Linked DNA regions of Homo sapiens. Each later gene encodes a partner of the first gene's protein in a complex. Each region holds a gene or a part of one and is shown in the gene's direction. Other genes may lie near its edges.

The links. Proteins that work in one complex are often made in the same cells at the same time.
Region 2: the proteins of MAPK10 (region 1) and SH3BP5 are in contact, whole or in part, in a crystal structure (PDB 4H3B), measured with the Homo sapiens proteins. Residues at the interface, in NP_620448.1 of Homo sapiens: Lys121, Asp150, Ala151, Gln155, Val156, Met159, Leu161, Glu164, Arg165, Tyr168, Tyr171, Val197, Lys198, Ser199, Asp200, Cys201, Trp362 (codon at 5,782), Asp364 (codon at 5,788), Glu367 (codon at 5,797); in NP_004835.2 of Homo sapiens: Val341, Val342, Arg343, Pro344, Gly345, Ser346, Leu347, Asp348, Leu349, Pro350.
Region 3: the proteins of MAPK10 (region 1) and MAPK8IP1 are in contact, whole or in part, in a crystal structure (PDB 3PTG), measured with the Homo sapiens proteins. Residues at the interface, in NP_620448.1 of Homo sapiens: Asp150, Ala151, Gln155, Val156, Met159, Leu161, Glu164, Arg165, Tyr168, Leu169, Tyr171, Val197, Lys198, Ser199, Asp200, Cys201, Trp362 (codon at 5,782), Asp364 (codon at 5,788), Glu367 (codon at 5,797); in NP_005447.1 of Homo sapiens: Pro158 (codon at 4,752), Lys159 (codon at 4,755), Arg160 (codon at 4,758), Pro161 (codon at 4,761), Thr162 (codon at 4,764), Thr163 (codon at 4,767), Leu164 (codon at 4,770), Asn165 (codon at 4,773), Leu166 (codon at 4,776).

What each region holds. Positions count from the first base shown.
Region 1 is NC_000004.12:86,063,050-86,070,073, reverse strand, and holds part of MAPK10 (mitogen-activated protein kinase 10), read left to right. Parts: intron 1-2,118; coding exon 2,119-2,301; intron 2,302-5,683; coding exon 5,684-5,808; intron 5,809-7,024. UniProt on the Homo sapiens protein: Serine/threonine-protein kinase involved in various processes such as neuronal proliferation, differentiation, migration and programmed cell death.
Region 2 is NC_000003.12:15,266,563-15,273,586, reverse strand, and holds part of SH3BP5 (SH3 domain-binding protein 5), read left to right. Parts: intron 1-207; exon of another isoform or gene 208-471; intron 472-1,726; exon of another isoform or gene 1,727-1,831; intron 1,832-3,709; coding exon 3,710-3,874; intron 3,875-7,024. UniProt on the Homo sapiens protein: Functions as a guanine nucleotide exchange factor (GEF) with specificity for RAB11A and RAB25. Inhibits the auto- and transphosphorylation activity of BTK. Plays a negative regulatory role in BTK-related cytoplasmic signaling in B-cells.
Region 3 is NC_000011.10:45,895,651-45,902,674, forward strand, and holds part of MAPK8IP1 (C-Jun-amino-terminal kinase-interacting protein 1), read left to right. Parts: intron 1-2,434; coding exon 2,435-2,540; intron 2,541-2,745; exon of another isoform or gene 2,746-2,821; intron 2,822-3,395; exon of another isoform or gene 3,396-3,441; intron 3,442-3,801; exon of another isoform or gene 3,802-3,885; intron 3,886-4,487; coding exon 4,488-4,802; intron 4,803-6,329; coding exon 6,330-6,411; intron 6,412-6,721; coding exon 6,722-7,024. UniProt on the Homo sapiens protein: The JNK-interacting protein (JIP) group of scaffold proteins selectively mediates JNK signaling by aggregating specific components of the MAPK cascade to form a functional JNK signaling module. Required for JNK activation in response to excitotoxic stress.

The sequences.
Region 1 (7,024 bases):
AGTGTTTCATTTAAAAGCAACCTAAGGTAGGAAAGAGCGCTGAGTGTGTCTCTAGATTCTAATTATGATTTATTACAAGAAACATTTTAACAATTCTTATTTAACAAATTCCAGAATATCTGACTCTCCTTAAACTTTAATATAAAAGTATCAGTTTTTTTTGTTTTGGGAGTACTTCTTTAAAATCAATTATTTACTGTATATCTTTATAATTATAGCAAATGTAATTAGGATATAATACTGTGTTGGGATTATTTTGCCAACTTTGTTAAATGACTTATTTACAGAAAATCTGACATCTTCTTTGCCTCTATTTTAAGTTTGACATCGAGTGGTTAGAATTTTGAGGAAGTTTGATCAATGATGAAATGATAGCTTGGTAGGGCATGCTAACCTAACTGTTTAAAAAATGTCTCTTCATAATTTATAATGACAAGCACTTAGGTTTTATTTAACTACACTAATGTATTCTATTTAAGTATGTCTAAGTACTTATAGCTTACCTATATCCATAGTATTAATACAGGCTCATGTCTAAGAGTAATTTGTAACTCTAACCTTATATAATGTTTTAGTTTCATTATTTCTAGTGATTCTGAATTACTGCTGTATTTTCTCATGCACATGATAATTAGATGAGCTTCTATCAAAGCATGTTCTTGTTTAATTATTACTACTGCTTTATTAAGGAATATTATTGTTTTTCCCACCTTCATTTCATATCTTCATAGTCCATGGTTATATATTTTTTATTCCAATAACTGACAGAATATGTAATAATTTAAGTTTTATTCAGCCAGATTATAGAGATGAAGAAAAGGATTTGCAAATTAGTTTGATTTTATCTTTGTTCAATCTCCTATCTACTGTTTGTATTATATATTTCTTTTTGTTGAATACAGTTAAGTTTATCTTTAATCAGGACTGACAATCTTTTTCAGTCCAAACCTCTTGAATAGCTAGGAGTAAAGACTTGACAAACTTCAACTAAGTAATATTATGGTAAGAGTCCCTTAACTGTCACACCTTACCTTAGTGGAAATGAGTTAACTAACTTAACACCAAAGAACAGTTGTAGAAGAATAAGCAATGTAGGAGAGAATACTGCTTGCAGTATTGGATTTAAGGGAATTTCCAAGATCTCTATTATTCACTGGCACATGGCGAGGAAATCTGTTTAAATCAGTTGTTTCCAGTTGGTTCTTCAGAGTAGATGGTGTTTATCATTATCAAGGCTCTGATATATCGAATATTAATGACAGATAAAAAAGAGAATCTCAATCATTGAGTATGTCTGCAAAAAGAGCTAGCTCCAATTTAAAAGGGTATTAATTTTCATAGAGAGGTAATATTTTTTCTGTGGTATTCCCCATGCTTAATGTACTTTCTAAACTTGGATGTACTTGGATAGAAATCTGTTGTTTTAAATTGAATATTCCTCTGTTCACCCTTATATTTCATTGAAAACAATATTCAGTGATATCATCAGTAAAACAATAGGTATGAAATAGGTGGCTTCTTTGTTTAATAAATATGATTTTTAGGAATCTGACAAAGAACTAATGAGTTGTTTTACTATAAAAGTTATGTTGATATGCATAAAAATAGAAAAAAATTCCAGATTTTTAGAGAAGAAAAAATATCTTAAAGATAGTTTAGGAAAATGTAAATGAATATAATCTAAAATATTTGTGTATTTGTCATTTTAAAAATATAAATAATTGAGGTAACTTCAGGATAAAAATGTCACTATGATGTGTCATTATATATTTTTCTTCTGAATCACATGATTTATATAGAAGTTTATCTGCAGAATATGAGATTCATCTTGTGTTATCTGAATGACTTTTTATCTGTACACCCCAAAGACTATTTCATGATATCTTATTTTGTTAAATAATTGCTAGTTTTCCAAAAGTATATAAGTTTCAAAAGTGAATTTAAAATTTCAAGAAGACTCATAGCCTGCAAGTCTGATTTTATATTTTCATTCTTTGTTGCTTATTAAAACTACAGTTGCATTAATGACTGTTGAGGACTTTGAGAAGAGTTAGTCTCCCAATTGTTGAAAGGCTAGTGGTCTGCTCTTCTTTTTTCCCTTAACTGTTCAATTCTCAGATATTGACCAGTGGAATAAGGTAATTGAACAACTAGGAACACCATGTCCAGAATTCATGAAGAAATTGCAACCCACAGTAAGAAACTATGTGGAGAATCGGCCCAAGTATGCGGGACTCACCTTCCCCAAACTCTTCCCAGATTCCCTCTTCCCAGCGGACTCCGAGCACAATAAACTCAAAGGTATGCCCTTCAGGAATGACTTGAGGACAACTATGAGGGTGACGGGCCAAACAAGCACACAGTATAGAGACCTCTATCTCTTTCTCTTTGTTCCCTTTTATTTTTAGTTGACACATGATAATCGTACATTTTTGTGGGATATAGGGTGGTATTTTTGAAACATGTATAGAGGTATAATGGTCAAATCAGAGCAATTAGCATAACCCATCACCTAAAACATTGATCAATTCTTTAATTGGCACAGCCTCAAGTTAAAGAAATATTTCTTCAAAGATCGTTCCTACAAAGGGGAGTAGCCACGGATTTTAGAATTGTCTGGATATTCAGGGCCGGGGGCGGTGGCTCAAGTCTGTAACCTCAGCACTTTGGAAGGCGGAGGCGGGAGGATCAAGAGGTCAGGAAATCGAGACAGACCATCCTGGCCAACATGGTGAAACTGCGTCTCTCCTAAAAATATAAAAAAATTAGCTGGGCATGGTGGCACACACCTCTAGTCCCAGCTACTCAGGAGGCTGAGGCAGGAGAGTCGCTTGAACCTAGGAGGAAGAGGTTGCAGTGAGCCGAGATCGGGCAACTGCATTCCAGCCTAGAGATAGAGTGAGCAAGACTCCGTCTCAAAAAATAGATATATATTATACTTCATAATGTAATTCCAATTTTCTTGAGTTTACTTTTTAAATCAATTTGAATCTCTGCAATTATGTTTGTAAATGATAAACTAGTTTGCATATTTGATTATTGAATTTAATTTTTAATATAAAATTGGCAAATTATAAATAATCTTAATATACAAATAACCAAAGAGAAGAATGTATTCTACTGTGTTTGGAAAAGAGCATAACACATTTGCTTTCAAATGAAAGAATGAAAGATAAAGCATTGAAACATTTTCCCATATTGTTTCCTAAAAATAGTATTGTTTCTTAGCAAGATGATTTTGTATTGGTGTAGTTCATGACCCTATTCATGAAGAATCCATTGTAACCCCAGCCCTTTCTTTTTTTTTTTTTTTTTTTTTTTGAGACAGAGTCTCGCTCTGTCGCCCGGGATACCGATCTAGGCTCACTGCAAGCTCCGTCTCCCAGGTTCACTCCATTCTCCTGCCTCAACCTCCCGAGTAGCTGGGACTACAGGCGCCCGCCACCACGCCCAGCTAATTTTTGTATTTTTAGTAGAGATGGGGTTTCACCGTGGTAGCCAGGATCGTCTCGACCTCCTGACTTCGTGGTCTGCCTGCCTCGGCCTTCCAAAGTGCTGGGATTGCAGGTGTCAGCCACGACCACGCCCGGCTAACCCCAGCCCTTTCTAAGAGCAGAAAAATGGATAGATTTGATGAGAGAATCTTATGAGAATGGTACATGAATTTGGATGTAAAATCAGTTACAAATTAAAGAGGTCTTTAAAGCAATGAATAAATAAACACAGCCCTGTTAGGCTATTAGGAGGCCATTGGCAATGAGAAAAATTAAATATTGAATTAATGTATAAGTATTTCTGTATTTTTGTTATTCCTGTGCGGTACAGAGTTTTAATTTGAAAGTAATGATAATCAGTTTCTAGGATTGAGTTTCCCAGAAAAATGATTAATAGAAATAAAAAATTCTCAAGTTTAACTAGTGATTTTTCATATTTGTTCAGAAAATTAAAAGATATATTTATTGATGTAATTACCAAGAAAATACTTACAGGTAAAAAATTAATTGCTACATTTTAACTATAGTATGGTTAATATTACGTGAAAAATACATGAACGGCACTAGAAAAAATATGCCAATAATCACAGTCATTGCCTCTAGCTAGTGGGGTTAGATATTATTTCCTGATTTTTGTATTTTATATAATTTTCAAATTTGTAGAATTAGCCAAGTTGTTTTAATCTGAAAAATTGATTAAATAAAAATTGATATGTATCCAGAGTCATCTATGTTGATTTTTTGAAAAATCCATTTAAATTTTGTTATCTTTAATTTGATGTTTTACCATATAGTTAGAATAAACTGAATATTTTCACGGTTCAACTTTCAGATCAGTTGAGTAACAATATTGATTTGAGATATTCATTTCTGTTAAAACTTTATGTAAAAGACTAGGGGAGGGATAGCTTTAGGAGAAATACCTAATGTAGATGACAGGTTGGTGGGTGCAGCAAACCACTATGGCATGTGTATACCTATGTAACAAACCTGCATGTTGTGCACATGTATCCCAGAACTTAAAGTATAATAATTTAAAAAATTTACATATTTTTAGAGGTTAAAATTAATGTGTCTTTTAACAATCTTACTAAATAAATAGCTATCACCATATAATTTTATAACTGTTACTGCCCACAACCATAAAATTAATTATGATAACCTTTACATAATATAGAGTTTCTCATTAGTGTCTGGTGTAGCATTAGACTGGCTTCAGTCTTTAACTACTGGATTTCATCAAGTCATGATTCCATTGATTAAAAATACCTGATGATTACAGAATGTTAAAATAAAATTCAGTAGTTGAATGATATTATTTCTATCACTTCAATTCTTTGATTGTTTTTATGTATATAAGAAATTTGTGGCTGGGAGCAGTGGCTCACTCCTTTAATCCCAGCATTTTGGGAGGCTGAGGTGGGAGGATCTTTGAGCCCAGAGTTCGAGACCAGCTTGGGCAATGTAGGGAGATCTTATCTTTACAAAAAAAAAGAAAGAAAGAAAAAATAGCCAGGCATGGTGGTGCATGCCTGTAGTTCCAGTTACTCGGGAAGCTGGGATGGGAGGATCCTTTGAGCGCAGGAGTTCCAGGCTGCAGTGAGCTGTGATCATTCCACTACACTCCAGCCTGGCAACAGAGGGATACCCTGTCTCAAAAATAAATAAATAAATAAATAAACAAAAACAAAAAGAAAAGAAAAATTTGTATGATACAAACTCTTAAGTCAATTTATATACTAAAATTCTGATAATTCCGTTGTATAAATAAGAATATAGAGACACACGTGTTGATTAACTTCAAACAGCCGTCCACACATTTGTTGAACATCATGCATTTGCACTCTGTGCTCTTTATTCTGTTTATCCTATATTCATGCAGGTTACCAAAGAAGATGACTTTGCTTACATAAACTCTCCAGGTTGATACATTTTACTAAGAAGTTTGCGTGAATAATTATATACCCAAAGTGTTACAACCCTTGGAGAGCCTCAGAATGAAGCCTTAGGCTTAGAGACACAAAGAAACAGGTGTAAAATGCATTTTCTTTTCCATCACATCAAGGGATTTACCTGATGTTTGGAAGGAAGATACTATTCCATACTTTGTTTTCTTAAATTTCCTCTCTGACAAATTTCCTTACTGAAATCAAAATCTTACTAATTGTTTTTCTCATTTATTGTTTCAGCCAGCCAAGCCAGGGACTTGTTGTCAAAGATGCTAGTGATTGACCCAGCAAAAAGAATATCAGTGGACGACGCCTTACAGCATCCCTACATCAACGTCTGGTATGACCCAGCCGAAGTGGAGGCGGTAAGAAATAGGCTGCCTTTACTTTGCTTCCACAAACAAATCATAGCTCATAGCAAAAACTGAATAGGACTAGAAGCCTAAAGAATGCACAATGGATTTTTATAAAATTTCTAAGTCCAAAGCCTATTATCTGCCCCTCTAAAAGCTATTTTCTTCAACATATGTTTTAAATACATTTTTTTCAGGACTTACTAGAAGAGGGTATGATTTAGTCCTACAAACCTTAGATGTCCATGATACACTACCATTTGTTTCTGTTAAATTGCCAATACTTGTGTTTCTTCTTGTGTGTTTGACTGCCAGTCTCTTCTAATGCAAACTTAGTGGTAGGAAACAACAGAGGACAAGTTGCTTAGCTTGTATTTTTTTTTTGAAAAGATACCTGCCACTAGTAAAATGTGATACTTAAGAATATTTCAATTAGAAAGCTTTTATAAGATGATTAAAACGATTGGTGGCTTTGTGAAACCTTGCATGAACTAGATGAACTAGAAGTGGGTATTTCAGTAAGTACATTACTTCAGGTTGATCAGTATGATGTATCTCCATGTCTGATACCCAGACATGGAGAATCTTCTCAGAAGCATAACTCTTTCTATTTTAAAAATATTTTTCAACCATTTACTATCTTCTGTTCAACCTCTTTCTTTCATCTTTACCTCTCTCCTTTCCTCTGTATGGATCCAGGGCTGAGCAGGGCAAGGGGGGCTTGCTGTTGCCCATGTGTGTTCTATAGGCCTCCTGATGAGAATTTCCTTTCTGCACTGCCTTTAAATGTTTCTATCAGGAATGTTACCTTCTCCCTTAAACATGAGAAGCTTCTCAAATTCTTAGAGTACCTGTGCTAAAGCATCTCATATTTTTTTACATAATACCTTCCAATCCATTTGTTTGGATTTGTTCTTAATCTTTCATTTGAAATACTGTTTGTTTCCCCAAAGTATTCTTAAAGATATTTTCACTTTCTTTCAGTTTTCTTTCCTCTGCTTCACCATGTGTTTTTCCATGTCAGAGGTGCTAGATTCAAACACATAATTCTCATTTCTTCATTCTTCACTAGAGAAGATACGAAAGAAAGTGAGAACTAGGTAGAATTGAACTTTACAGACACAATATTAAACAGGTCCTTTTCATAATGTAACCCAATCTTTAAGCATTTAAAAACTTCAGAGAAAACACTTAAGTGATTAATGAATCTCCCAAGTGTGAAGACTGC
Region 2 (7,024 bases), on another chromosome or scaffold:
GGTTAAATGTGGAATGAGGCCTCACATTAGTTGTACCTGTGATATGGCAAGGCAAACATGTATCCTATGTCACTGTACAGGAGAAGGAATCTCGCAGAAACTTCAGACGCTTGTCCGGAATTTGACAGCACATGTTCTTCTCAAAGGCAGCTTCACATGGGCTTCCTCTTTTCCTTTGTAGAGATCTGGTTCTCTTATTTGGAACTCATCAGATACATGGCAGAGGGTGTGAAGAGGTGCTGGGCCCGTGGTACAGCAGCCACCTTTCAGAAGGCCGTCAAAAGAGCATCTTTTCTTGCTTGAAGAAATAAGGGATTCATAACTGAAGCAGAGAGAACTGGGAGAAGAGAGTTTACCCTTAAATGTTGCTGAATTGAAATACTAAAAAATTCCTAAAAAGGCAAATACAAATCCCATTTTAGGATCCTGTGGGATTCATCCTGTCTCCTGGAGTTGGTGTGAAGCATATAGGTAGGAGAGGCCACCTATGGGTAGGGGGTGGAGTGGCTTTTAAGGTGACAGGTTCCCTCTGCTTCCTCTCGTTCCCAGCAGCTTGGCCTGCGGAGGCCCTGCAGGGCTGTCCTCACATGAAAGAACTAAGAACCACTAATGGGCCTGGAGGCACGAGGTGGGGCAGGGGTTGGGGGGGTGAGTTGGTCAGCTCTAGGGAGGGTGGGCATCCTTGTTCTCCTTGTGTAGCTGAGGCACACCTGAGTGGAAGTGGGCGACTGGTCCCAGGGCCACATGGTGAGTCCACAGCAGGGGCAGGTCCCTGGGCCACTTTGGTTGAAGGTTTAGCCTGGCATTCATTCAAGGTCTTCACTGGAGTCCTTTTTAAAAATTTGATCTGAGGTATCATCGAATCTCCTACAGGCACTCTGTTTTGTAATGTCTTTATCCTACAGGCACTCTGTTTTGTAATGTCTTTATCCTACAGGCACTCTGTTTTGTAATATGTCTTTATCCTACGGGCACTCTGTTTTGTAATGTCTTTATCCTACAGGCACTCTGTTTTGTAATGTCTTTATCCTACAGGCACTCTGTTTTGTAATGTCTTTAGAGTCTCAAATCCTTCCTTCTGTCCCCCACCTCATCAGCCCATGTTTTCAAATCATTTGTGTCCTTAGTCCTGAGTTCGGGATCCTCCTCCTTTAAGAGGCCTTCCTTGGTTCTTTGTACTGGAAATAATTTCTCCTTCACATTCCCTGCCATTCCTCCCTTCCTGCTGTGGCACTGTCACATACAGCGTTGTATTACAGACTTCTGAGTGTCCACTCCATGCTTGGTTCGGGTCTCCATCTGATTGTCATCGTCGCCTGGAGGGCTGGGTCTGGGTCTGGTATGCAGTACACAATCACAGAGTGCTCGGGAAAAGCTGTTCTTTGCCTTGGGGGCTGGCGTGCTCTGAGTCTCTGATTTTTTTGTTCCCCCTTCTTTAACCTTCTTCACAAAGCGTCCTCAGCCTGTGGTTTCTGAAGACTTCCTCGAAGTCATGCAAGAATTGCTTGGGGAAGGGTGGGGTCCCTGTAGTTCCCCTCTTCCCGAGTCCCAGGGGCTGCCTTAGGGACGTCCCACCAGGGCTTATGTAACTGACTTGGGGATGTGGTTAACCGAGGGAGGGTGGTGGGACGAGGGAGGGTGGTGGGACGCTGCAGAGGCGGGTTTGTGGCTTCTACCCTGCTGGGGAATTCAAGGTGAGCCTGTAGAGTGGTGACTGTGATGTTTCAGTGCTGATTTCTCATGCAGTCACACAGCTGCCATCACATGGCCCATCTTGGGGTAAAGGTATCTACTGTCCACAAGAAATAGAATTGGAATCGCCTGTATAATTGTAAGTTTCCCTGTGGTCACAGTAAAAAAGGAAAGATGGGGAGAGATGAAATGGTGAAATTAATTTTTTTTTTTTTTGAGACAGAATTTCGCTCTTGTCATCCAGGCTGGAGTGCAATGGCGTGATCTCGGCTCACTGCAACCTCCACCTCCCAGGTTCAAACGATTCTTCTGCCTCAACCTTCCGAGTAGCTGGGACTACAGGCGTATGCCACCACACCCGGCTAATTTTTGTATTTTTAGTAGAGATAGGGTTTCGCCATGTTGGCCAGACTGGTCTCAAACTCCTGACCTTGTGATCCACCTGCCTCAGCCTCCCAAAGTGCTGGGATTACAGGTTTGAGCCACCGTGCCCAGCCTCTGTGAATTTAATCTTTAAATTTTATTTATTTAAGAAGCAGGGGCTCATTGTGTTACCCAGGTTGGAGTGCAGCGGCATAATTGTATTTCACTGTAACCTCAAGCGGTCTCCTGCCTCAAGCTCCCAAGGAGTGGGGAATACAGCCATGTGCCACCATGCTCGGATAATTTTTTAATTTTTTCCAGAAGTAGGGTCTTGCTATGTTTCCCAGGCTGGTCTTGAATACCTGGCCTCAAGTGGTCCTCCTGCCTTGGCCCCCCAAAGTGCTGGAATAGAGGTGGGATCCATTGCACCCAGCTGAAATTAATTTTAATAATATATTTAATTTAATTTAATATATCCAAAATATTATTTCATCATATAATAAAAATTATTGAGATATTTAACATTCTTTTTTTTTTGTACTAAGTCTTTAAGATTAGGGATGTCTTACATTCAATTGGGATTAATCACTTTTTTTTTTTTTTTTTGAGATGGAGTCTCACTCTGTCACCCAGGCTGGAGTGCAGTGGTGCAATCTCGGCTCACTGCAGCCTCTGCCTCTTGAGTTCAAGTGATTCTTCTGCCTCAGCCTCCCAAGTAGCTGGGATTATAGGTGCCCACCACCATGCCTGGCTAATTTTTGTGTTTTTAGTAGAGATGGGGTTTCACCATGTTGACCAGGCTGGTCTTTAATTCCTGACCTCAAGTGATCCGCCTGCCTCCCATAGTGCTGGGATTACAGGTGTGAGCCACTGCACCTGGCTGGGATTAATCACATTTTGAACAATCAGTAGACACATGTAGTGGGGGCAGCTCTAGACGTGGTGGTCAGCTACAGTTGGTATTGGTTCTCCCACCTGATGCTCCTTGAAAGCAGGGACCGTGTTGTGTTAATTAATTAGGTCCTTCTCTTTGCCTGCCTGGTGCCATACTTGGCCTGTCGCTGGTGTCAGTGGGTGTGAGTTGAGTGGGAGACTGTCTGGCAGAGTGACAGTGCTGGGCTGGAACTCATACTGGCTGGAGTCTGGCACAGCTCTGCATCTAGTCAGCTGTGTGATCTCAGGAAAGGCTGTGTCCTCTCAGCTAAGGTCCCCCTTCTATAGAGTGAAGTCTTTGGACCATGATCTCTGGGGGCCTTCCTGGTTCTGACTTGCCATGAATTGAGCCACAGATCTGGGCAGGGAAGGTGACAGGCCTCGAGTGAGGCAGAGCTTCTGAGAAAGGCTGTGGGGTTGGCTGTACCTGTCCCACGATGGGCTGGTTTGCCATGTCAGGTTCTGGCCAAGGGCTGATGTGTTTATCTCATCCATTGGGCCCAGAACTGTGGAAATTGTTCGCTCACTGATTTGTTGCTCACTCCCCCATCAGGGGTCCATTGCCCTGTCTGGCATCTATGAGGACCTGTGGGTGCCAGGAGTGAAGAGGCAGAGATGAGCTTGTCCTGGTCCTTGGGATGCTTATTTTTTGAAAGGTAAAATGGACCATGGGGAGCCCCTGCCATTTTCTGAGGCCTCATGAGGATTCTTTCTCACACAGGCTCAGCTGGAAGCTCAGAAAGCCACGCAGGACTTCCAGAGGGCCACAGAGGTGCTCCGTGCCGCCAAGGAGACCATCTCCCTGGCCGAGCAGCGGCTGCTGGAGGATGACAAGCGGCAGTTCGACTCCGCCTGGCAGGAGATGCTGAATCACGCCACTCAGAGGGTATGAGTCATGGCCGGGTGTGCTGTGGGGGTGTGCGCGTGCATGCGCGCTGGCTTCCCCTGAGCGGAGGTAACAGACTCGACTCCCAGGCATGTTGCCTGAAAACACCCTGAAAATCACAGGTTGTCATCTCCGTATGATCTCTTGGCTGCGCTTGGTACGAAGCCAGTGCTCCAGAATGAGTCACAGTGTCTCTCCGTGACAGCGAGAGCTGCTCCTTCCCTTATGTTGCTTGAGGTTTGTCTGGTTTGGGTCATCCCCAGGGGGTCTTGACTGGACTCAGGCTTCCAGAGGGACGAGGTTTTCCAGGGTTTGCTCCCATGGAACCCCAGCAATACTGGCTGGGTTTCGAATCTGTGATGGGGAGACCTTGATGAACAGCCCTAAATGGGGGCTGCACTTCGGGTATGTGCTGTCGGAGGAAGGCAGGGGTCATGGCGGATTAGACCAGAATCAGGTGTGTACTTACGACAGGCCTTCTGGGCTGGGATTCAGGGAGTTGACAGGCACAGAGGAAGCGGACTGTGTGTGATCCTTACTCACAGCTTGGCTTGCTGGGTTTTATGTCATTATATTGGGTTCTTTACTGGCTCTCATGACCACCTCTCTGACTGCGTTACTCAGAGCCAGAAATGGTGTGCCTTAGTCTGTACAGGCCAAGACAAAATACTAAACAAAATACCATAAACAGGGTAGTTGGTAAACAATAGAAATTTATTTTTCACAGCTCTGGAGGATGAGAAGTGCATTGGTAGGTAGGACATTGGTAGATTCAGTGTCTCATGAGGGCCTGTTTCTTGGTTCACAGATGACCATCTTTTCCATGTCCTAACACGGTGGAAGGGGTACATGAGCTTATAAGGTCACTAATCTCATTCATGATGGTTCTACCCTCATTACCTCATCACTTCCCAAAGGCCCTATCTCCAGATACCCTCACACTGGGGATCAGTTTCAACATAAGAATTTTGGGAGGACACAAATGTTCAGACCATAGCAGCTAGGGACAGTTCTTGGCTCAGCAGTACTTGGTTACCCCTGCCTAACTCTATCGGGTTTCTTAGAAGTCACGCAGAATGTTCCTGGATACCTCTTCCCCCTTCCAGGCTTGGCTCCTGGGCTGCCCAGGCTCATGTTCCTGGTATCCCCCCACACCAGCCTGGGTCCATTGTGCCCCTCTGCATTCTCTGTCTAGATTCCCAGCGCCTGGAAAACGAGTGTAGGGCTGGTTTGCTGCAGGGTGGGTGGGTGAGCTGACCTGTGGCTTCAGCAGCTCCAATAAGACCCTGGACGGCGCGGGTACGGGGTTGCAAGAGGTCTTGGTGACTCCTTGAGAAAGCCGTCTGGGGGACTGGATTAGAAAAGTCAGCAGGTTAATGCCAATAGGATTTCCCTTTTAAATGTCACCTGCCACAGTGGCTCAAGTCCTGGGGGATCTGATAATTAAAGATGGCCTTGTGCTTCCTTAAATAGAAAGCTTGGCACACAAATGACTTCAAGAGTCAAATCCGCGTTGACTTTACGCACCTCTCCCTGCAGCCTGAGACTCTCGGCTGAGCTTGGCTTTGTGTGGCCTTGCGCCTCCTGCCCCCTAGTGGGCGTGATGCTCACAGAGCTAGACGTGGGCTAGAAACAACTTTTCTGGGTCATCTCGAGAAAAATGGAAGGGGTGGCTGGAAATCTTGGAAGTTCACAAGCCAAAGCCCGATAGATATGAAAAGGACAAAATGTAAGGTAGCTTCTTCCAAGAAATTAGCTGAAGGGCCACTTTTCCTTTTTGCCCTTCTTCCACCCCAGCTGGAGACCCATGTCAGCCTATAAGCAAGCATTTCAGAAGTCATTTAATCTGTTGTTTAAAGATAAACAAACCATGCTTCTGCTTTGTGTATCTCTCATTTTTAAGTCCCAGGGCCCCAGTGGATAGTGGGTGGCCTCCCAAGGAGTGGCATCCCCAGACCTCCACACTGTATAACTCAGGGCACCGTTCATACCACAGACTTTGGGAATAGCGCTTTTTGGAGTTGTGCAGTGCAAGACCTGTGGGGCTATACAAGATGGCCCTGTACTCCTGAGGTCATGAGGGCTTCATAGGGCCCTGGGAGGGCCAGCTGATATGTGCCTTCTCTGTGGCCACTGAAGGGAAGGGCCCATTTGGTTTTCTTGGGCTTGGGGGCAACCTCTGCAGATTGGCAGGTGTTCCGGGTCACATGCCAGGATTTCCACCTTTGAGCTGATATTCCTCTTCCCAGATCCCTTCACAGTTGCATAGGCTGGAAATGCCCCTCATTGAACAGATGAGTTAAAAACAGACACCAGCAAGAGACAAAAGCCTGTGGCAAAGCTTTCCCCCATCACGTCCCTGTGCCACTCAGAATTTCAGCGTGCAGAGCAGGCTCTCCGAATGTAATGGATGATGCAGAACATAATTCTTTCTCCAGGACACACACTTGCATGGTTGGCTTTGAAACAGTGTCGAGTAACTGGGAACTCTCTGGACTTAGCGTTTCCCCCAGTGGTGCTCATGTTGACCCCTCCTAGAGCCTCACGGGCCTGGCATGCTCAGCCAGCTGAAAGCTGTGTGATCAAAGGGCTAGAGAATGTCTCCTCCCTTGTCTGCCTTCTGGGTACTCTAGGATGCTTGTTTCTGTAGAACAAGGGAGCTTCATCTCACCCTCTTCTTCCAAAGTATTACTTAAGGGTCTAATAAAAGAAAATTCCGTGCTCAGAAAGGCCCAGGGCTGTCTTGAAGAAATGGCAGTGGCTTGGACTACACGATCCCTCCAGGCACAGCGGGACACTGGGGTTCCCACGTAACGTGCCCAAGATTATCTATGCGGCCCCTCACACTTCCTGTGGTGACATCAGGCAGCCACACTTGGAGCCATGGCTGAAGCCGATATACTAGGAGGTGGCAGCAGCCCTGGTGTGCTCTGTTAGGCCACATGCAGTGGCACAGACAGGGACAAAGGATCAGTTTTCTGCTTAGTGCTGGGGTTGATGAGGACTCTGGAAAATACAAGTAGCTTGTGGCAGAGCTGCCAACCTTGTAGTTGAGCAGCCTTCCTTGGGGCACAGGGCCTGGGGTCCCTGCTGCTCTCCAGCTGGGGAGCTTGGGCAGCATAGGACCCCTTCAGCCTCAGCTGTTTTGGC
Region 3 (7,024 bases), on another chromosome or scaffold:
TATATATATATGTGCAGAGGTCACTGGCAGAGCAGGGGCATTTCAGGGCACCTCTGGGTCAGCGGTCCTGCAGCTCTCCCATGCCATCTGAGTACCAGGGGCTCCCTTTTGCACCACTGGCCTTCTCGGTGACCATCTGGGCAACCAGTGTGAATTGAACACTTACTTGGTGCTGGCCACTGGGTTTTTGTCCCTGAGCCTGAGATGCCACCCTGCCCTGGCCGGACGGAGGAGGGCTGCTCTGGCTTCTGGGCCAGGCCCTCCTCCCCACTTCCACCCCAGCTGGCCAGCCACACCCTCCCCATGGCCTGGGGAACCACCACCCTTGGGCTGCAGGTCAGACGTGACCCTACAGGGCACCTTGTCCATCCAGCCCCCATTCCCCACCCCTCTGTGCAGTGCCCTCCAGGGGCCTCCAGGTTCTGTTTATGTCATTCCAAAGGGAGAGGAAGCTCATTACCACACAGCAGCCCTTCCAGCTCTGCTCTAAGGGCCCAAACACTGGCCTGCCCTTAGCTGTGGCTCTGGTGCCTCCTGCTTCCATAGGCCCTGCCTTCCTGGGTCCTGAAGGCTCAAGCTCTGGCTGCAGAAGGAGGCAGCCCAGATCAAACCCAGTTTGGATGCAGCCTGGGCCCACAGAAGCCTCTCTGATGAGGTCGGGGGGCTGAGCCTATGGCAGTGCAAACCGAGTGTTCATTCTTAGGGTGTTTGGGAAGCCCCCCTTCATCTCCCACCTGGCACCCTGACTGGGGAACTGGCCCTTTAAAGCCAACCAAGGGCTGGCTTTTGGGGGGAAACATCCTAGATTTCTGCCATCTACTTACAAGCCTGGGCCAGGGAGGGGGGGCCACTCAGCCCCCGACAGGGGCATTGGAAGGGCAGGTGGAGCCAGTGGCATTGATTGCAGTAACCTGATCCCGTGAGGGAGGCGGCCACAGCGGCAGCAGCGCAAGGGCCAGGCCAGCCGGGAGGAAGGTGCCTGCAGCTGAGGGCTGCGCTGGGAAGAGCTGGGGCTGGGACCCGGGTCGGCAGCTGCAGCCTCCTCTCCTGGCCTGTCTATTTTTAATGAGCTCCCCAGGCTTCTGCAGCAGGCAGGACGCAGAAAGACAGGCCCAAGCGGTGGAGGCCAGAGGCCCCCAGCCCTGCCTTGAGCCCTGGCCCCCCCACCCTTCCGGGCATGAGAGGGCAGCCCTGGGGCCCCGCAGCCCCCCGGCCGGGCAGGGCTCTCCATGCAGCTGGTGCTGAAGATGGATTCGAGCCCAGACAATGACAGCTGGTTGGAGGATCAATGGGAGCGCTGGTAGGGGCTACCGGGGCTGGCGGGGGTGGAGACCGAGTTGGGGTGAGCTCCATCGAGCTCAGGGTCTCTGATCTGAATGAGGCGAGTGGCAGGGAGTCTGGGCCTCCTAGGTTCCCCTGGGGGCTAAGCCACCATCTCTCCTGGGTGACCTTGAACTAGTGGGTTTCCCTTGCTCTGTGCCTCAATTTCTTGGACTTATTTGGGAAAAGGCTCATACATTCTCCCCAACTTCCTAAATGTTCTACCCCCCCACCACCCCCCCAGCAAGCCAGGCAGAGTGCCCAGGACCTAGAGGTGAGCAAGAGACAGGCTGCCTTGCAGTGGCTGGCCCAGCCCTGCATTCTGAGGTGGGGACTCAGGGCTGGCCTAGGGAGAGGGGGGTTCTAGTGGAGCTGGTTAGTATTCTGGTGCCCTGGTGCTCTGAGCTGTCTCCCAAGGTTGTAACACCTCTGGTCCCACCTGGGGCTTCTCCTGACCCCATCTGTGCAGCCTCCTGTTCAGGGTCCTTACACTGGATAAGGAGAAGATGTTGTGGTTGAAGAGATGAGACCACCAAGTGCACAGCATGAGGCTGGAGTCCTTTCTGGAATAGGCTGAAACTACCCACACTGACACCAGATTTTCCTTCGCTTGTTCCCTGGGCTCAAGGGGCATGAGTCTTCCTGAGCTGGGGCGTGGGGCACTCCTCTGAGGCTGCTGCCGGCGCCTCGGGTCTTGCTACTGCAGGGATTGCACTGGGAGCTCCCCTACTCCAGGCTGCTCTTCTCAAGTCCACATTCTCCATGGTGAACTGGCCTTGGCACCTGCCTTGACCCTGGGAGGAGGCTCTGACCAGTTGGGCCTTCTAAGCACTGCCTGCTGGTTGGCAACAGAATGACAGCTTCCAGGGAGGAGCCAGAGTGACCTGGAGCCTCCTCTTCCACTGCCACCCTAGGAGGACTGCCTTTTGGCACAAGCCCCTCGCTCTTTCCCTGCCTGCTGACCACCCCCTGCATTGATACAGATGAACCCCAAATCCTGTCCTCTGGGGGCTGTGTTTGGCCTTCAAGAGGCTGCACCCTGGAAGAGGTAACAGGGAGATGTGAGCAGGCATAGTGCCCCTGAGTTGTAACTTTGGCTTCCTGTCCCCACCAGGCTCACCCATGACATCAGCCTGGAGGAGTTTGAGGATGAAGACCTCTCGGAGATCACTGATGAGTGTGGCATCAGCTTACAGTGCAAAGACACCCTGTCCTTACGGGTAAGGGCAAGCTCCCAGGAGCTCCTGAGTGGGGTGGCAGGAAGGCTAGGGACAGGGGTAAGGGTATCCCCATAGTGACAAAGGGGGTTTCAGGTCTGTGCTGGCACCCTCATGAAATGAAATGATGTGCAAGAAACATAGGTATACTGCTTGGCACGTCTTGAGTGTACAATCAGAATTTCATTTGGTATTATTATTATTATTACTGCTGTCGGGGACTAAGACAGGAAGTAGCTCCTTCAACTGCCCACGAGATGGGAGAGGCCAGGAAGTCTTGAGACCTAGGGCAGTAACAATTAGGACCAGACTTAAGGGAGACTCAGGGCTACCCCTGAATCCTTTTGGGAGCAGCCCTGGCAGAGGGCCTGAGGCAGACAGGGTGGAGTCTGGTGGAATCTGCAGTGCTTTAGGGCAGGAAGAAACAGCCAAGGCACCCCTGGAATAGCTCCTGTGGCTGCTGGCTGCTATTACACCAGACAGATGGCACCACGCGGCCTCCCAGACCCTCTCTGGCCTATAGTCCTAAAGGCCCCCACTGAGGGGTTTGCCCAGCATTGCTGCTGGTTTGGGCCCCTTGGCTTTGTCATAGGGAAGATGGCTCTCTCCTGTCCCTAAAGATCTGAATGCTGCCAGGAGGTCCCCAGCACCTGGGTAACTGGGGTCAGATGGGGATCCCAACTATGTCTTTTCAGAACAGGAAGAAGGGGCCGGCTTGCCAGGAAATGGAGGACAGAGCACAGGGCTAGGTTTTAGAGCCCAGAGCTCCTCTGAGCCCCCAAGAGGGCGGGTAGCCAGATACGGTGTCAGGAGAGTGGTTACCATAGGAGCGTGAGGTGTGCCTTGGGGAGGGAGTACCTGTCTCTGTGTTGACCTCCTGCTACTCCCAGAGACTCAGTAAGCTCTGCAAGAGGAAACCAAGGGGTGAGGATAATCCCCTAGTCCCCAGTACCCCAACCTTCCACTCTCTGGCCAGGCCAGGAAGAGGCAGAGGCCTCTAGATTTGGGGAATGGTCTCAGAGCCCTGACTTAGCTTCTCAGAGGTCAGGCACCTGTTCTGGACTCTCACCCTGCCCTCTCCCCCAGCTGCACCAGCAGAGCCTTGGAGAGGGTTGCCTCCGAGCTAGGCAGGGGCCCCAGGCACTACTGGCCAGAGGTGTGCCCCTAAGGGGCCTCAGACAAGCTCCAGCGGGCTTCACACACGTTCCAGTGAATACTCAGCTCTCTCAGAGGCTGGGAGGCAGTAGTGTTATCCCCACTCAACTGATGAGGGGGCCTGAAGGATCAGGGGATCTGTCCAAGGTGCCAGGGAGTTGGCGGCAGAACTGGAGCTAGATGGGGCTCTGCATCCTCAAGGCAGGCTCGTGGAGGACCGATCTAGGGCTGGAGGGGCCCCGGGCCAGCTGGCTTAGGGCGCGGCTGCCACCGCCTTGGTTCCTGGCCCCCGCTCGCCCCTCCCCCTCGGCGTCTCCTTCCCATCCCTCTCAGGTCTCCGCCGTTCCTTGCTTGGCTGAGCCTCAGTTTTTCCAGTTTTCCTCAAGACCCCTTCAAATACTATTTCCCCAACCCCCATCCCTTGCCCACCCCACCCCGAACTCCTTGGCGACCACTGAGTCCCCATAGCAACAGCGGTGACTTCACTCTGGGCTCGGCTTACAACCCCGGTGAGGTCACCGGCCGTTGCCAGGGGAACGGGAGGGCGCAAGGAGTCCGGGGTGGGGACTGTGGGGAGGTGCTGGCCGTCAGAGGCACGGCTGGATCGGGGAGGCGGCGGCCTCGCGCTTCCTCGCGGCGGACGGGCGAGAGCGCCCCAGTCTCCGGCGGCCCCTGCTCGGCTCCCCTCGTGCCCCCTTCGCGCCACAGAATGGACTCGCCCGGGCGGGGGGCGGTGCAAGCGGCCTCGGCCCCGCCCCGGCCCCGCCCCCTGACGCCCCTCCGTGCGCTGTGCAGCCCCCGCGCGCCGGGCTGCTCTCTGCGGGCGGCGGCGGCGCGGGGAGCCGGTTGCAGGCCGAGATGCTGCAGATGGACCTGATCGACGCGACGGGGGACACTCCCGGGGCCGAGGACGACGAGGAGGACGACGACGAGGAGCGCGCGGCCCGGCGGCCGGGAGCGGGGCCGCCCAAGGCCGAGTCCGGCCAGGAGCCGGCGTCCCGCGGCCAGGGCCAGAGCCAAGGCCAGAGCCAGGGCCCGGGCAGCGGGGACACGTACCGGCCCAAGCGGCCCACCACGCTCAACCTCTTTCCGCAGGTGCCGCGGTCTCAGGTGAGGCGCCAACGTGGGGGGCGGCGCCCTGGGCCGCCGCGGAGATGTGAGGGGGAGCGCAGAGGGGCTGCAGCGGGAAGGGGCACCCACGGGTCCAGTGCCTGGGGACAGCGCCTGCATAGGGGCCGCGGTGGCTCGCTCCCGGTGTTGGGATCCGAGGAGCGGGCAGAACCATCCTTACGAAGAGGGGGCTGAGTCCAGCTGGCCGGGCTTGGAGCCTTGAGGCGGGATTGAAGGAGGGAAGGACTGGGGTTAGGAGAGGAGTAGGGAATTAAGAGAATGAGGCTTTGAGGGGTTCGAAGGGTTTGGAGCCTGGGACCTCAGGCTGTGACAGGGTTTCTCCTTTAGGATATGGGGCTCCTGGTGAAAGTGGAGCAGGAGCAGGGCCTGGAGAAAAGGGCATCTGAAATGGTCATCGTGGGGGAGGCCGTGGGAGATCGTGGCGAGGTGGGGATGGGAAGCTCAGGGGCCACAGCCAGTTTAAGATCTGGGCAGCTGCGAATTCCCAGAAGGCAGGGGGGAGGAATGGGAGATGGAGCTGCTTGGCTAAGTTGGGGACCTAGGGCCCCTGGGAGGGTGGCTGGATGCCAAGGAGAGTTGAATAGGGTTGGGGGAGCTGGCTGTGGCCCTTTGTCTTCCAGGCCCATCGGGAGCGGTGCAGGCAAGGAGCTCCTGGGAGGTGGGGCGGCTGGGGCTGCGGGGAAAGGCTTGGTCCCTTTCCCAGGATCCTGTGAATGGCTTTTGGCAGCCCGGCTCAGGAACGTGAGGGCTTGGGAGAGAGCTCCCAGGGGAGGGAGCCTCCGTGGAGTGGAGGGAGCCCTGTGTGGGCATTGTGGGGAGGGGTCCCAGGGCTGAGAATGTAGAATGGGCAGCCCAGGAGATCCAGGAAGGAGGGCTGCTGACAACTGCATCTGTCACTCCTCAGTCTCATGCCACTGTGGTGGGGGGTGCAGGAAAACTCTGTTATGGATTTGTCACTGGGATGATTCATCCTGGTCCCCCAGGCCAGCTGCTAGGGAGACCCTTCCTTGTGCTTTTTCCAGGCTCTACCAGAAGGTCCTCACCCCTTCTAGGCCATAACTTCCCAAGCTCCAGAGCAGAGAGTCACCTGTCTCTGACTTGGGCTGGATTTGAGCATTTTCCAAGTAACCCTCAGTACCTGGGACTGGGGGTCTGACTGTGTCTCCAGAGAGCTCCTGCTTCTCTTCTCCCCTGCCTCCTCCCCCTCTTGCCACCACACACATTGGCCATCACCACCTTTGTTAAGGCTGATAAGAGCATCTCCCTGAGGGTTGGCCAGCTTCCCTGAGCAAGGCGGAGGGCCATCCAGAGCCGGCAAGCCTGGCTGTGACTTGCCACCCTTCCTGCCTGCTCCAGAGGAGAGTTACGAGTGAGGCCTTTGACAGTGGAGGCGGGGTGGACACAGCAAATGGCCCTAGGGATGGCCTGAGGGGGCAGGGCCGGGGCCTCCCTGTGCCGGGCACTGTTGACCACTTCCATCACAAGAGCCTTTTGTTCCCTGCACAGGACACACTGAATAATAATTCTCTGGGCAAAAAGCACAGTTGGCAGGATCGGGTGTCTCGATCATCCTCACCCCTGAAGACAGGTAAGTCAGGGCCCTCTTCCTTACCTGGACCTCCGCCTGCCCTGACTCAGTCCCCACTACAGAGAGCAAACCCTACAGTCTCCAAAGGGCTGAGTAGAGGTGAACTGCCCACCCACATCCCTGCACGAGCCCATCCAGGGGCTGAGATCAGTGGTGGCATGAGTGAGTTGACTGGCCCCAGAGCCTGCGAAGGGCCTGTTGCCCAGGGAGGCTTTGTCTTGGTTTCTGTGTCACCAAGCTGAGAGTGGCAGGTGCAGGTAGCTGGGAGTTGGGAGAGAGCCCCTGCCTTCATGACCTGCCTGCTCTCCAGGGGAGCAGACACCACCGCATGAACACATCTGCCTGAGCGATGAGCTGCCCCCCCAGAGCGGCCCCGCCCCCACCACAGATCGAGGCACCTCCACCGACAGCCCTTGCCGCCGCAGCACAGCCACCCAGATGGCACCTCCGGGTGGTCCCCCTGCTGCCCCGCCTGGGGGTCGGGGCCACTCGCATCGAGACCGAATCCACTACCAGGCCGATGTGCGACTAGAGGCCACTGAGGAGATCTACCTGACCCCAGTGCAGAGGCCCCCAGACGCTGCAGAGCCCACCTCCGCCTTCCTGCCGCCCA